Linked DNA regions of Homo sapiens: all the other regions are linked to region 3. Evidence: fine-mapped expression QTL. A gene starts in region 3. Each other region holds a variant in brackets. All regions are shown on one strand. Distances are between the middles of the regions.

Evidence for each region. PIP is the estimated chance that this variant, and not a neighbour inherited with it, causes the effect. A credible set is the group of variants that fine-mapping cannot tell apart.
Region 1: its variant is the best candidate, but not a certain one, in a credible set for the expression of MCUB in whole blood (INTERVAL, PIP 0.69).
Region 2: its variant is the best candidate, but not a certain one, in a credible set for the expression of MCUB in sigmoid colon (GTEx, PIP 0.53).

The regions. Positions count from the first base shown.
Region 1 is chr4:109,640,128-109,644,127 of GRCh38, reverse strand. The region is part of intron 1 of MCUB (mitochondrial calcium uniporter dominant negative subunit beta); the gene reads right to left. Among named protein-coding and RNA genes, the nearest start is that of CASP6, 61 kb to the left of the region's middle. The variant G/A (reference allele first, on the strand shown) is at 2,044.
Region 2 is chr4:109,630,806-109,634,805 of GRCh38, reverse strand. All of the region lies in intron 1 of MCUB (mitochondrial calcium uniporter dominant negative subunit beta), which reads right to left. Among named protein-coding and RNA genes, the nearest start is that of CASP6, 71 kb to the left of the region's middle. The variant G/A (reference allele first, on the strand shown) is at 2,408.
Region 3 is chr4:109,557,437-109,561,758 of GRCh38, reverse strand. It overlaps MCUB (mitochondrial calcium uniporter dominant negative subunit beta), which reads right to left and starts at 1,513. Exons shown (of 8, transcript NM_017918.5): 1 at 1,323-1,513. The coding sequence starts at 1,421. RefSeq lists an enhancer at 627-826 and a silencer at 1,247-1,566.

The DNA.
Region 1 (4,000 bases), 83 kb before region 3:
ACAAAGCCTCAATTTTTTTATCTTTGCCCCTCTACTGAACATGACAAAGACCTTCACATTTTCTAAGAATCCACTGAATATAATGTACCTAATTTTTTTTTAATCGGGCAGCCTCCGAACCAGAATAGGTTCAGCGAGGCTCCCCCAAATCTTGTTTAACATTTTTTTACTCGTTTTAACACAAATTTGTTTAAAATGTCTTAGAGCAAATAGTTTATTTTCCAACATGTTTTACAGCTTTAGTGTTTGTATTTGTTTCCTAGGGCTGCCGTAGCAATGTACTACAGACTGGATGGCTTAAAAACAAGCATCAGTTATTTATAAAATCAGGTGCAGTGGCTCATGCCTGTAATCCCAGCACTTTGGGAGGCTGAGGTGGGCGGATCACCTGAGGTCAGGAGTTCTACACCACCCTGGCCAACGTGGTGAAATCCCATCTCTACTAAAAATACAAAATTAGCTGGGCATGGTGATGCATGCCTGTAATCCCACCTACTCAGGAGGCTGAGGCAGGAGAATCACTTGAATGTGGGAGGCGGAGGTTGCAGTGAGCCAAGATTGCGCCATTGCACTCCAGCCTGGGAGACGAGAGTGGAACTCTGTCTCAAAAATATAAATAAATAAAAATAAAAAAGTAAAATAAGGCCAGGCATGGTGGCTTATCCCTGTAATCCCAGCACTTTGGGAGGCTGAGGCAGGTGGATCACTTGAGGTCAGGAGTTGGAGACCAGCCTGGCCAACATACTGAAACCCCGTCCTTGCTAAAAATACAAAAATTAGCTGGGTGTGGTAGTGCACACCTGTAATCCCAGCTACTCAGGAGGCTGAGGCAGGAGAATTGCTTGAATCCGGAGGCAGAAGTTGCCGTGAGCCAAGATTGCGCCATTGTACTCCAGCCTGGGCGACAGGGAAACTCCATCTCAAAAATAAAAGAAAATAAGTCTCACCTACTCAGTCAAGTTTGAATAATATTTTTTCTCTTGGATGTTTAAAAAAATGGTAAGTTGTTTCCCGTATTAAAATCTAGCTGAGAGTGGCCGGGTGCGGTGGCTCACGTCTGTAATCCCAGCACTTTGGGAGGCCAAGGTGGGCGGATCACCAGGTCAGGAGTTTGAGACAAGCCTGGCCAACACAGTGAAACCCCGTCTCTATTAAAAATACAAAAAATTACGCCATTGCACTCCAGCCCGGGTGATGGTGCAAGACTCCAACTCAAAAAAAAAAAAAAAAAAAATCTAGCTGAGAGTACTGTATATCAATAACTCTACTACATATCATTTAACCAAAAAACAATATGTCAGGGAGTATGACAAAAAGAACAGTTAAAAAAAAAATTTCAGTCTTCATCTCTTTAAAGTAGAAATAGCAGCTTTTTGTGATCCAGCCTCCTATTCTAGAAGCATTAGGAAAATGTCAAGTATCAAGTAGAAAATATAGCCTAAAAAGAAGTTGAGCTCAAGCAGAAAATAAAAAAGATGCAGCAGCCTGATTCAAAAAGGAAACAACTTTTTAACCTGGGGTGAAGAAAAAATACTGATACATAATGAACAGCAGGGACTAGCATAATTTGCCTAATGACTATAAATCAGAGGATAGCAGTTTAAGATTTCTTAGTATAAAAGCGACAGCTAACACACTGATACAGAAAAATAAATAAAAACAATTACTTCTAAATATAAGCCTTTTAAGGACAACTTTAATTACCCTGCCACAAAAGCACCATATCTGACAATAATCTCAGTATGAGGCTTTCGAAAATAATATGGTGCTACGATTTGCCCTTTCCATATCCATGGGCAAGAACTCCATTATTCTTGCTGTTTCAGGGCTCACTCAGTAGTATTCCACAGATATCATTAAATCATGTAATTTACTTTAAAAAGATTGAAGACAGAAGCTGAAACCCGGGTAAGAAAAAGCAACAGACTTGGTTCATAATATTTGCTTGTCAAAAACTATCCCCTTGAAAAGATAAATTCTTATCACCACTAAAGATCTTCAAAATCATATGTTTCAGGATCCAAAAACAACTCCAAAAATGCA[G/A]TCACAGTATTTTGTGAAATCAATACAATTATCTATTTTCCTGAGCCAAAGATAATTTCTTTAGCTATGCATCTAGACCATAGAATTTTGTATACAGACATAAACTATTTAAATGAATACATCTATTTATAGTCACCACTTTTATATAATGCAGAAGTACTTGAAGATCTTTTCGTGACAAAGGTAGTAATTCCAAACTGGGAAACAAATGGGAACTACATGAAGGTAGTAACACATCTGAATTTCTAAAGCACAGAATTCTAAGTTGCTACACCCTCTGTTGTAATGAATATGAAATCAGAAGGTTCCTTCACAGGAGGTTTGAATACACAGAGAACTGACAAATGAAATGGCAGTATACAATGCCTGAAAATACAGGCATACTTCATTTTATTGTGCTTCACTTGATCACATTTCACAAATACTGCCTTTTGTACAAATTGAAGGGCTGTGGTAACCCTGCTTCTAAGCCAGTCTATAAGCACCATTTTTTCTTAAAGCATGTGCTCACTTTGTCTCTGTCACATCTTAGTAATCCTCACAATATTTCAAACTATCATTACTATTACATCTGTTATGGTGATCTGTGATCTTTGATGTTACTATTGTAATTATTTTGGGGCACCAGGAAACATGGTCGTATAGGATGGGGAACTTAATTAATTAATATTGTATGTGTTAGGCCGGGTGCGGTGACTCACGCCTGTAATCCCAGCACTTTGGGAGGCTGAGGCAGGCGGATCACGAGGTCAGGAGATCGAGACCATCCTGGCTAACATGGTGAAAACCCGTCTCTACTAAAAAAAAAAAAAAAAAATACAAAAAGTAGCCGGGTGTTATGGCGGGCGCCCATAGTCCCAGCTACTCAGGAGGCTGAGGCAGGAGAATGGCGTGAACCCGGGAGGCGAAGCTTGCAGTGAGCCAACATCACGCCAGCCGGGGCGACAGAGTGAGACTCCTCTAAACAAAAAAAACACTGTATGTGTTCTGACTGCTCTGCCAACCTTTCCCTTCCCATCTCCCTCTCCTGGGGCCTCCCTATTCCCTAAGGACAATATTGATATTAGGCCAACTAATAAGACTACAATGGTCCCTAAGTGTTAAAATGAAAGGAAGAGTGGCATATCTCTTACTTTAAATCAAAATCTAGAAATAATTAAGCTTAGTGAGGAAGGCACGTCAAAAGCTGAGGTAGACTGAAAGCTAAACTTCTTGTACCAGTTAACCAGGTAGTGAATGCAAAAGAGAAATTCTTGAAGGAAGTTAAATGTGCTACTCCAGTGAACACACGAATGATTAGAAAGTGAAATAGCCTTATTGCTGATATGGAAACATGATAAGTGTTAGTGGTCTGGATATCAAACCAGTCACAACATTCCCTTAATCCAAAGCCTAAGCCAGAGCAAGGTCTAACTCTCTTCAATTCTGTAAAGTCTGAGAGAAATGAGAGAACTGTAGGAAAAAAGTTGAAAGCTAGTAGAGGTTGGTATATGAGGTTTAATGACAGAGGCCATCTCTATAACATAAAAGTGCAAGGTGAAGCAACAAGTACTGATGTAGAAGTTGGAGCAAGTTATCCAGAAGATCTAGCTAAGATCATTGATGAAGGTGGCTACACTAAACAACAGATTTTCAGATTCCAATACTGCCTTGCATTGGAAGACGATGCCATCTAGGACTTTCATAGCTAGAGAGGAAAAGTCAATGCCTGGTGTCAGGCCTCTGAGCCCAAGCTAAGCCATCATATCCCCTGTGACCTGCACATATACATCCAGATGGCCTGAAGCAACTGAAGAACCACAAAAGATGACATTCCACCATTGTGATCTGTTCTTGCCCCACCCTAACTGATCAACTGACCTTATGACAATACACCCTCCCGCCCTTGCGATAATGCACTTTGAGATATTCCCCTGCCCTTAAGAAGGTACTTTGTAATATTCTCCCTGCCCTTGAG
Region 2 (4,000 bases), 73 kb before region 3:
TGCTTTAAAAATGAAAATGTCCAAGGACCCCTTTTCCTTTCTATCTGCCTAAAATAATTTAATAACTTCTACCACACAATGAATAAATAATGGCATCTTCATCAGATGGAATACAGTAACAATGCAACAACATGATTGAATCTCACAAAGTTAAGCAAAAAAGACAGACACAAAAGAGTATATGAGATTCCATTCATATAAATTTGAAAAAGAGGCAACAGTAATCTACAGTGTTGGAAGTCACAATGGTGGTAACACTGCTGGGCTTAGGTAGTGACTAAAACGGAGCATGGAGACACTTCTTTTTTTTTTTTTTTTTTCTGAGACAGAGTTTCGCTCTTGTTGCCCAGGCTGGAGTGCAGTGGCGCAATCTCAGCTCACTGCAACCTCCGCCTCCCAGGTTCAAGCGATTCTCCTGCCTCAGCCTTCCTGAGTAGCTGGGATTACAGGCACGCGCCACCACGCCCAGCTAATTTTGTATTTTTAGTAGAGATGGGGTTTCTCCATGTTAGTCAGGCTGGTCTCGAACTCCCGACCTCAGATGATCCACCCACCTCGGCCTCCCCAAGTGCTGGGATTACAGGCATGAGCCACCGTGCCTGGCCTGCATGGAGACACTTCTAAGGTGCTGACAGCATTCTGTTTTTTGTCTGGATTCTAACTGCATGGCATGATCACTCATTAAACTTATGGACTATACATTTTCTATATGAATGTTATTCTTCAAGATTCTCAGCTAAATCTGGACTGGACCTCTGAAATGAGATTTAAATTCTCCTTGGTGAGATTTCTTTATAATAATAAGAGTTAGGACAGGAATAATACAATGAAAGTACAGCGTGATAATAAAAAGAATAAATAAAGTGTAATAGAGCCCCAGAGAAAGAAATAATTTAGGAAGAAAAGCTGTACATGGGCGGGATGGTGGGGGTGGGGGTGGTGTCTCTTAGATAAGAACATATACCAATTTTTTTCCTAATCTAAGCCAATTATTGTCAAGCACGGTCTCAAAGGAAGAGAATCTACATGGCGGTCTAGCCAGATGGTGCTAACAAAGTTGTCTTCCTTGCTTTGATGCCTGGGTGTCTGAGATGATAGAAGGCTGAGAGCCACATGGGGTAGCACAGTTGGCAACTCTATTCAAGTCGTGCAAATCAACACATAAAATGCTTTACATTTATTCTACTTCAGGCATATTTAGTGATGTACTTATAGTTTCATTTAAAAATTAATTAAAGGCTGAGTGCAGTGGCTCATGCCTGTAATCCCAGCACTTTGGGAGGCCGAGGCATGCAGATTATGAGGTCAGGAGATCGAGACCATCCTGGCTAACACTGTGAAACCTTGTCTCTACTAAAAATACAAAAAAAATTAGCTGGGCGTGGTGGTGCATGCCTGTAGTCCCAGCTACTCAGGAGGCTGAGGCAGGACAATGGCGTGAACCCGGGAGGCGGAGCTTACAGTGAGCCGAGATCGCGCCACTGCACTCCAGCCCGGGCGACAGACCGAGACTTTGTCTCAAAAAAAAAATAATAATAATTCATTATAAAATATTATGTTCTATCCAAATACACGCAAAACAAAAGACTTCATCTGAAAACTGGAATGGTTTAAATTTTATTTTTTCAGTAGGTATTTCTTCACTTCTGTCGCTTCTGTTATAAATTTATAGTCATACATTTCATTTTGGATCCCTTCCTATAATACAATGTATGTATTTCTATCACATGTCACCTCCTTACATCTCTACTTTCTAACCTCACACCTTCTTACCTATATTGTAGTTTCATAATCATTATTTTGGCATATCAGCCTCAGGGCTTGACATTCACTTGGCCATTCCACCCTGACACCTATCAAGATAGTGCTGATATAAAAATTGGCAATGACAGGGCAGGTGTGGTGGCTCATGCCTGTAATCCCAGCACTTTGGGAGGCCGAGGCAGGCGGATCACTGGAGGTCAGGAGTTCGAGATCAGCCTGGCCAACATGGCGAAACCCTGTCTCTACTAAAAATACAAAAATAAGCCAGGCATGGTGGTGTGCATCTATAGTCCCAGCTACTTGGGAGGCTGAGGCAAGAGAATCACTTGAACCGGGAGGTGGAGGTTGCAGTGAATCAAGATCGCGCCATTGCACTCCAGCCTGGGCAACAGAGTGAGACTCCACCTTAAAAAAAAAAAAAAAAAAGCAATGACAGAAGACATAAAAGGGATAAAAAATTTAAAAACTAAAAAATCATCACCACTTTAACCAGCACCCACAATCTCATTCGAGACACTGAGCTGGTACCGCCTAGGTAATCTGCTCCCAAATTCCTGCCCCACATAAACTGTGAGAGCAATAAATTATTACTGCTGTCTTAAACCACTAAATTTTAGAGAGATTTGTTATGCAACAATAAATG[G/A]TAAGTCTAAAATTCAGACTTCTCACTATTTTAGATTAGATTTCTCTAGTTGAAAAAAGCAAGATTTTACTTTATGCATACTCTGAACCAGCGTTCAGCAAACCATGGCCCATGAGCTAAGATTTTTTTTAATCTTTTCAAAACACTGTTTAAGAAAAAGAAGAATATGAAACAGATACATATGTGGTCAGAAAACCTAAAATATTTACTATCTGGCCCTTCACAGAGAAAGTACACTGACCTCTGCTGTAAATAAATTTCAATAATGGAGGGATGTATTATTTCAGTTTTGTTCTTTGGATCTTAGTGCTCCTTAATAACATTTATCTAGGCTGAGATTCGGACCTCTTCAAAGAGGGTGTGGTTATTGGCTACATGAGAAATACACAAGCATCAGCGCCAAAGAGCCAGAGGTGGGCTGTGAAAGGGGCCTGCCGTTTGTCAGCAGTGTAAACAGGACCAAGCTGTTCTCTAGACCAGCCCTCTTGGTGGGAGGAAACCAGCCAGAAGACTGGGCTGGAGCTGCCTGAGAAACAGCCTGCAGGTGGGGAGAGAAAGGTCTGAGAGTGCTGCTTAAGTTGATCTGTGAGGACCCCTGGGCTGAATAAAGGAAGGTGAAACAGAACTGGAAGGACAGTACCGATCTACTGTTGCCACCATGCATTGTCTCCCCAGGTCCTGCACTGACAGAGCCTAAAGCTGCACAGCTGGTAAAGGAGAAATGTTGACAGAGTCCAACTCCAATATCACAAAGCAGGGCAAAGAACTATAGATTTGGGGCTGACGGATAATAAATTAATAACTGAAACTATACTTCCTCTTTTTTTCCTTACTGCACTTTGCACTGCACTTTTTAAAGGAAAATCCTGCGAACATGTATTGTGTCCAAAGCATATATTTAATATTTACCACAATATTTAGTACATATGCCACAGGCACTCAATTTCTATTATTTATTTTCTGAATAAAAAAGAGCTATGTGAAGGAGTTTCACATTCCTATCTAGTTATCTGATGTTGGGAGATGAAAAATAAAAGAGGTGTGATAGTTGAAAAGAAAAACAGATTCCTAGAGTCACAAAACATGAGAGATGAGTAAAGCTCATCAACTAGAAATGTGTTGACATCAGAAGCCACAAATCAAGTGCCCGTGTGTAGTGTGGTGTTAAACATCACAACAAACAGAACTGTACAGATTGTGTGCATACTCAGTTTCTAATTGAGCGGAAATTATTTATATAATAACTTGCTTCCTCTGAAAGATTATCCTCTATGGCAAATTATACTAGCTTGATCTCATCTGAGTTGCCACTGACTTCTGTCCAGAAATTGAGTATCTAGGCAGAAAAGGTGAAAAAGAGAATAAACTATCATATAAAGAATCAAAAAGAATTCTGTATGTTGTCAGGTCTGCGAAATGGTGAAGCTCAGGGACTCTTCAAATAATGAGTCAGCTTGTATAATAGGAAGTCCAGGAACGGCAGTACATTTAATGCAAGAATAAAAAAACAATTTTGCAGGCCAGGCGCAGTGGCTCACGCCTGTAATCCCAGCACTTTGGGAGGCTGAGGCGGGTGGGTCACCTGATGTTGGG
Region 3 (4,322 bases):
ACAACAAAAAACAATAATCTGTGTTTAAAATGGCATGTGAAAGGGGTTCCTCGTATTGGGTTGTTTTAATGTTTGGTATCTCTTTGACTACACAATGCAACACTTACAGTAAAAGTACAACCTTTAAAAGTATAAAAAGCCCATCTCCCCAATGACTTTATAAGTCTACCATTTTACATTTTAAGGAGTTTGCCCCTGTTCTTACATTTAGTAACAACATGGCCTTCCTCATTCTCTTTCAAACATTCCTGGAATTGATTTTCTGAATGCACTTAATCCTTTGGTCACAAGCTCAATGAAAAGGAAAAAAAAATGCACTTAAATATTCCCTGCATCAATTGAAACTGAAGCCCTCAGACAGCTGGAGGAAAAGGGGGGGAAGGAAAAAAAAGAACAAAATAAACAGGAAGTGAAAGTGACAAGAGAATCACACTGCTTACTTTTTGGCTTTTAAGCCTTTAACAATCTGAAAGTAATCTTAACAGTGTGGGGGAGGAACAAACGAAAACTCAGAAACAGCTCCCTCCCCAACCACACACACCCTGAAGGCTTTGGCTGTCTTTCCTCATCTGGGTCAGAGTTTGCACTCCCGGGCTCCTGTCAGGCTCCATCGCAATCCTCCTTAAACTCAGCGCTTTCCCCTTCTTCTAGTCTTTTTTGGTGCACATCCACTCTCTACTCCTCCAAGCCACGGTTCTCCACAGACCACAATACAACGGTGTCAGGCCAACTGTTACTCACCAGCACACTCATGATTCACCCGTCTCTCGGGTGTCTGAACAAAACGCGAGTTTTTCTTCCTTCTGGGAAAGGGAGGTGCTCGCAGATTTCAGGATGGAAATTTCACTCTCCTGCGACCGTCCACACCCGGGACGGTCACTGCCCCGTTCATCGTTTCCGGGCTCCTTAGGGGCTCGGGCACTGATCACCAAGAGGGAACCGGCCCCGCGGCGCAGCGGCTTTGGAAACTTGCTCCTGACCGAGAGCTGCAGCCCAGAAACTGCCTCCCAGGTTATTCTGCTGCTCCCAGGCCGAAGTCTGGTGGTCCCCGCACCCTATCTCGGCCCGGGTGAGGCACCCCCAGCCGCAGCGCTCTGGCTTCACCTTCCCCGGGCCCGGAGTCTTGACCTCAGCCCAGGCCTCCGTGACCCACGTCGGCCGCCCGGCCACCACCTGTCGGGACCGCCCGGCGCGCGGAGCCCGGCAGCCAGCAAAACGCAGTTGACTGCTCGGCCGCTCGGCTTTTGCTCCCGCCAAAGTTGTCCAACGCAAACTTTGCACCAGCCTACCCCGAACCCCCACAGCCCGGCACCCGCTCTTACCTGGGGCGGAGGCGGCAGCGGCCACGGGCGCGCTGGGCGCCAGGTGCCAGGGGTCGGCAGCAGCCGCGTGCGCCACGGCCAGAGGCCCCTCTGGAGCATCCTCCCGCCCCAGGCGCGCGGCTCCCGCAGGCGTCAGCGGCGCATCCTCCCTCAGCCGGGCTCCTCGTCAGCGCCTGGTGGCTCCGAGCTGTGGGCGCTCCCGCCCCGCCTGCTCGCTCAGCGCGCCGCGGCTCCAGCTTGGGCGGGCTCACGGGAGGGTGTGTCCCTGTTTCCACTTGTCGGCTCTCTACGCATCCGGGCGCAGGGCTGTTTTCTTTCCTCCGACCAAAAAAAAAAAAAAAAAAGAGAGCGAGAGAGCGGGAGCCCGAGAGCGGGAGCCCGAGGTCGAGGGCCCCCTCCTTCTCCAGCAGAAGACCCTCTGGAATGAACAGCAGCAGGCGACGCACACCTTGCGAGCTCTAGATTTCAAAACTCGCTGTTAATTCCCGGTGCTGCGTGCTCTGAGCGCCGTCTTCGCCATCCAACCCAGACGGGGATGAGACGAAAACAGCGTCCGGCATCTGGAGGGGGCAGGGCCGCTCAGGAAGTTTGTTTTCCCCACCGAGCTTGGAGAAGACGGATTGAAGCGGGTCGGCCGAGGCCTCTCCCACCTCCACAACCTCCAAGGCCTCTGCCCCGGGCTGCGGTGCCGGGCCCCTGCTCGCTGGCGAGTGCGGTGTGAGGCGGGCAGCCCGGGCCTACCCCTGCGGAGGTTTGTAGTTCACGGTATAGGGGCCCAAACCCGAGTTTTTTGGGAAAGTATCTCCCACAGAATTGGCTTCTCTTTTGAAGCACGTTTTTAATTGAAGAAGCTTCGGAACCGGTATTGAGTTCTTCTAACTACTGGGAAATCGGATGCTTTGTTTTGAGACTACTTATTTTTGAAAGCAAACCAAAGGCATTAAAGAGCAACCTAAACCAATTACAGTAGGGTTGTTAGATAAAATATAGGATGCCCAGTTAAACTTGAATTTTAGATACAAATAGTGAAGTATGTCCCAAATATTGCATGGGTCACATTTATTATTTTAAAAATGAAATATCTGGGATATACTAAATTATTTGGTGTTTATCTGAATTCAAATTTAACTGGGCACTCCGCATTTTTATCTCCTGAATCTGCAAGAGGGTTCAGTTAATGAATCAAAATTGGCAAACCTGCAATAAGTGGCAAATCACTCCTGGCGGTAATCTCCTTTCCTTATTGAAAAGGGAAAGAATCACAAGTTTCTACTATAGTAAAAACTTTATCACTATTAAAGGCTGATTCACCTGTGTTAACTAGCATGTCTTTCAAAATACAGTTGCCCCAGATGGAGAGTGACACATGAAACTTTAAGTTCATATGGGAAGGTAAATTACCTTACCTGAATCTTTTCCTCCTATTAGCTAGTGCTCCAAGTGAAAGAAGCGTGTATTTTTGTTTTTTTGTTGTGAAGGGTTCTTGTTTAATACAACTGAAAAGAATGCCTATACAAAGAATTGACATGAAAAAGCATTGATTCAACACTCATGAGCTAGGTTCTGAAAGGTGTAAAAAAATTACCTGAACATTTTTAGAAATTGGAAACTACAACTAAAACTGATAAAAATCCCTATTAACATTTGTGAAGAATCTTGATAATGTGTCCTGAATTGGTGGGTTCTTGGTCTCACTGACTTCAAGAATGAAGCCGCGGACCCTGGTGGTGAGTGTTACAGTTCTTAAAGGTAGCGTGTCCGGAGTTTGTTCTTTCTGATGTTCGGACATGTTTGGAGTTTCTTCCTCCTGGTGGGTTCAGTGGTTTCGCTGGCTTCAGGAGTGAAGCTGCAGACCTTGGCAGTGAGTGTTACAGCTCTTAAGGTGGCGCGTCCGGAGTTGTTCATTCCTCCCAGTGGGTTCGGGTCTCACTGGCCTCAGAAATGAAGCTGCAAACCTTCACGGTGAGTGTTACAGATCATAAAGGCAGTGCAGACCCAAAGAGTGAGCAGCAGCAAGATTTATTGCAAACAACAAAAGAACAAAGCTTCTAGAGCGTGGCACGGGACCCAGACAGGTTGCCACTGCTGGCTCTGGCAGCCTGCTTTTATTCCCCCATCTGGCCCCACCCACATCCTGCTGATTGGTCCATTTTACAGAGCGCTGATTGGTCCGTTTTGACAGGGTGCTGATTGATGTGTCTACAATCCCTGAGCTAGATACAGAGTGCTGATTGGTGTATTTACAATCCTTTAACTGGATATAAAGGTTCCCCAAGTCCCCACTAGATTAGCTAGACACGGAGCACTGATTGGTGCATTTACAAACCTTGAGCTAGACACAGGGTGCTGATTGGTGTGTTTACAATCCTTTAGCTAGACATAAAGGTTCTCCAAGTCCCCAGGAGATTAGCTAGATACAGAGTGCTGATTGGTGCATCCACGAACCCTGAGCTAGACACAGAGCACTGATTGGTGCATTTACAAACCTTTAGCTAGACAGAGTGCTGATTGGTGCATTTACAATCCTCTAACTAGACATAAAAGTTCTCCAAGTCCCCACCCCTCTCAGGAGCCCAGTTGGCTTCCCCTAGTGGATGCCATGCCAGGGTTGCGGGCTGAGCTGCTTGCCAGTCCTGCGCTCGTGCCTCGTGCCTGCACTCAGCAGCCCTTGGGCAGTCAATGGGACTGGACGCCGCTGAGGCAGGGGCGGTGCCCCTCAGGGAGGCTAGGGCCTAGCAGAAGCCCACCGCGGGGGGACTTGCACATGGCGGGCTGCAGATCCGAGCCCTGCCCCATGGGGAGGTGGCTGAGGCCTGGTGAGAATTTGAGCGTGGCGCGGGCCGGCTGGCAGTGCTGGGGGACCTGACGCCCCCCTCTGCAGCTGCTGGCCCAGGTGCTAAGCCCTTCACTGCCCGGGCCGGGGGTGCCGGCCGCCCTCCGAGTGCGGGGCCACGGAGCCCACGCCCACCCGGAACTCGCGCTGTCCCGCAAGGCCACATG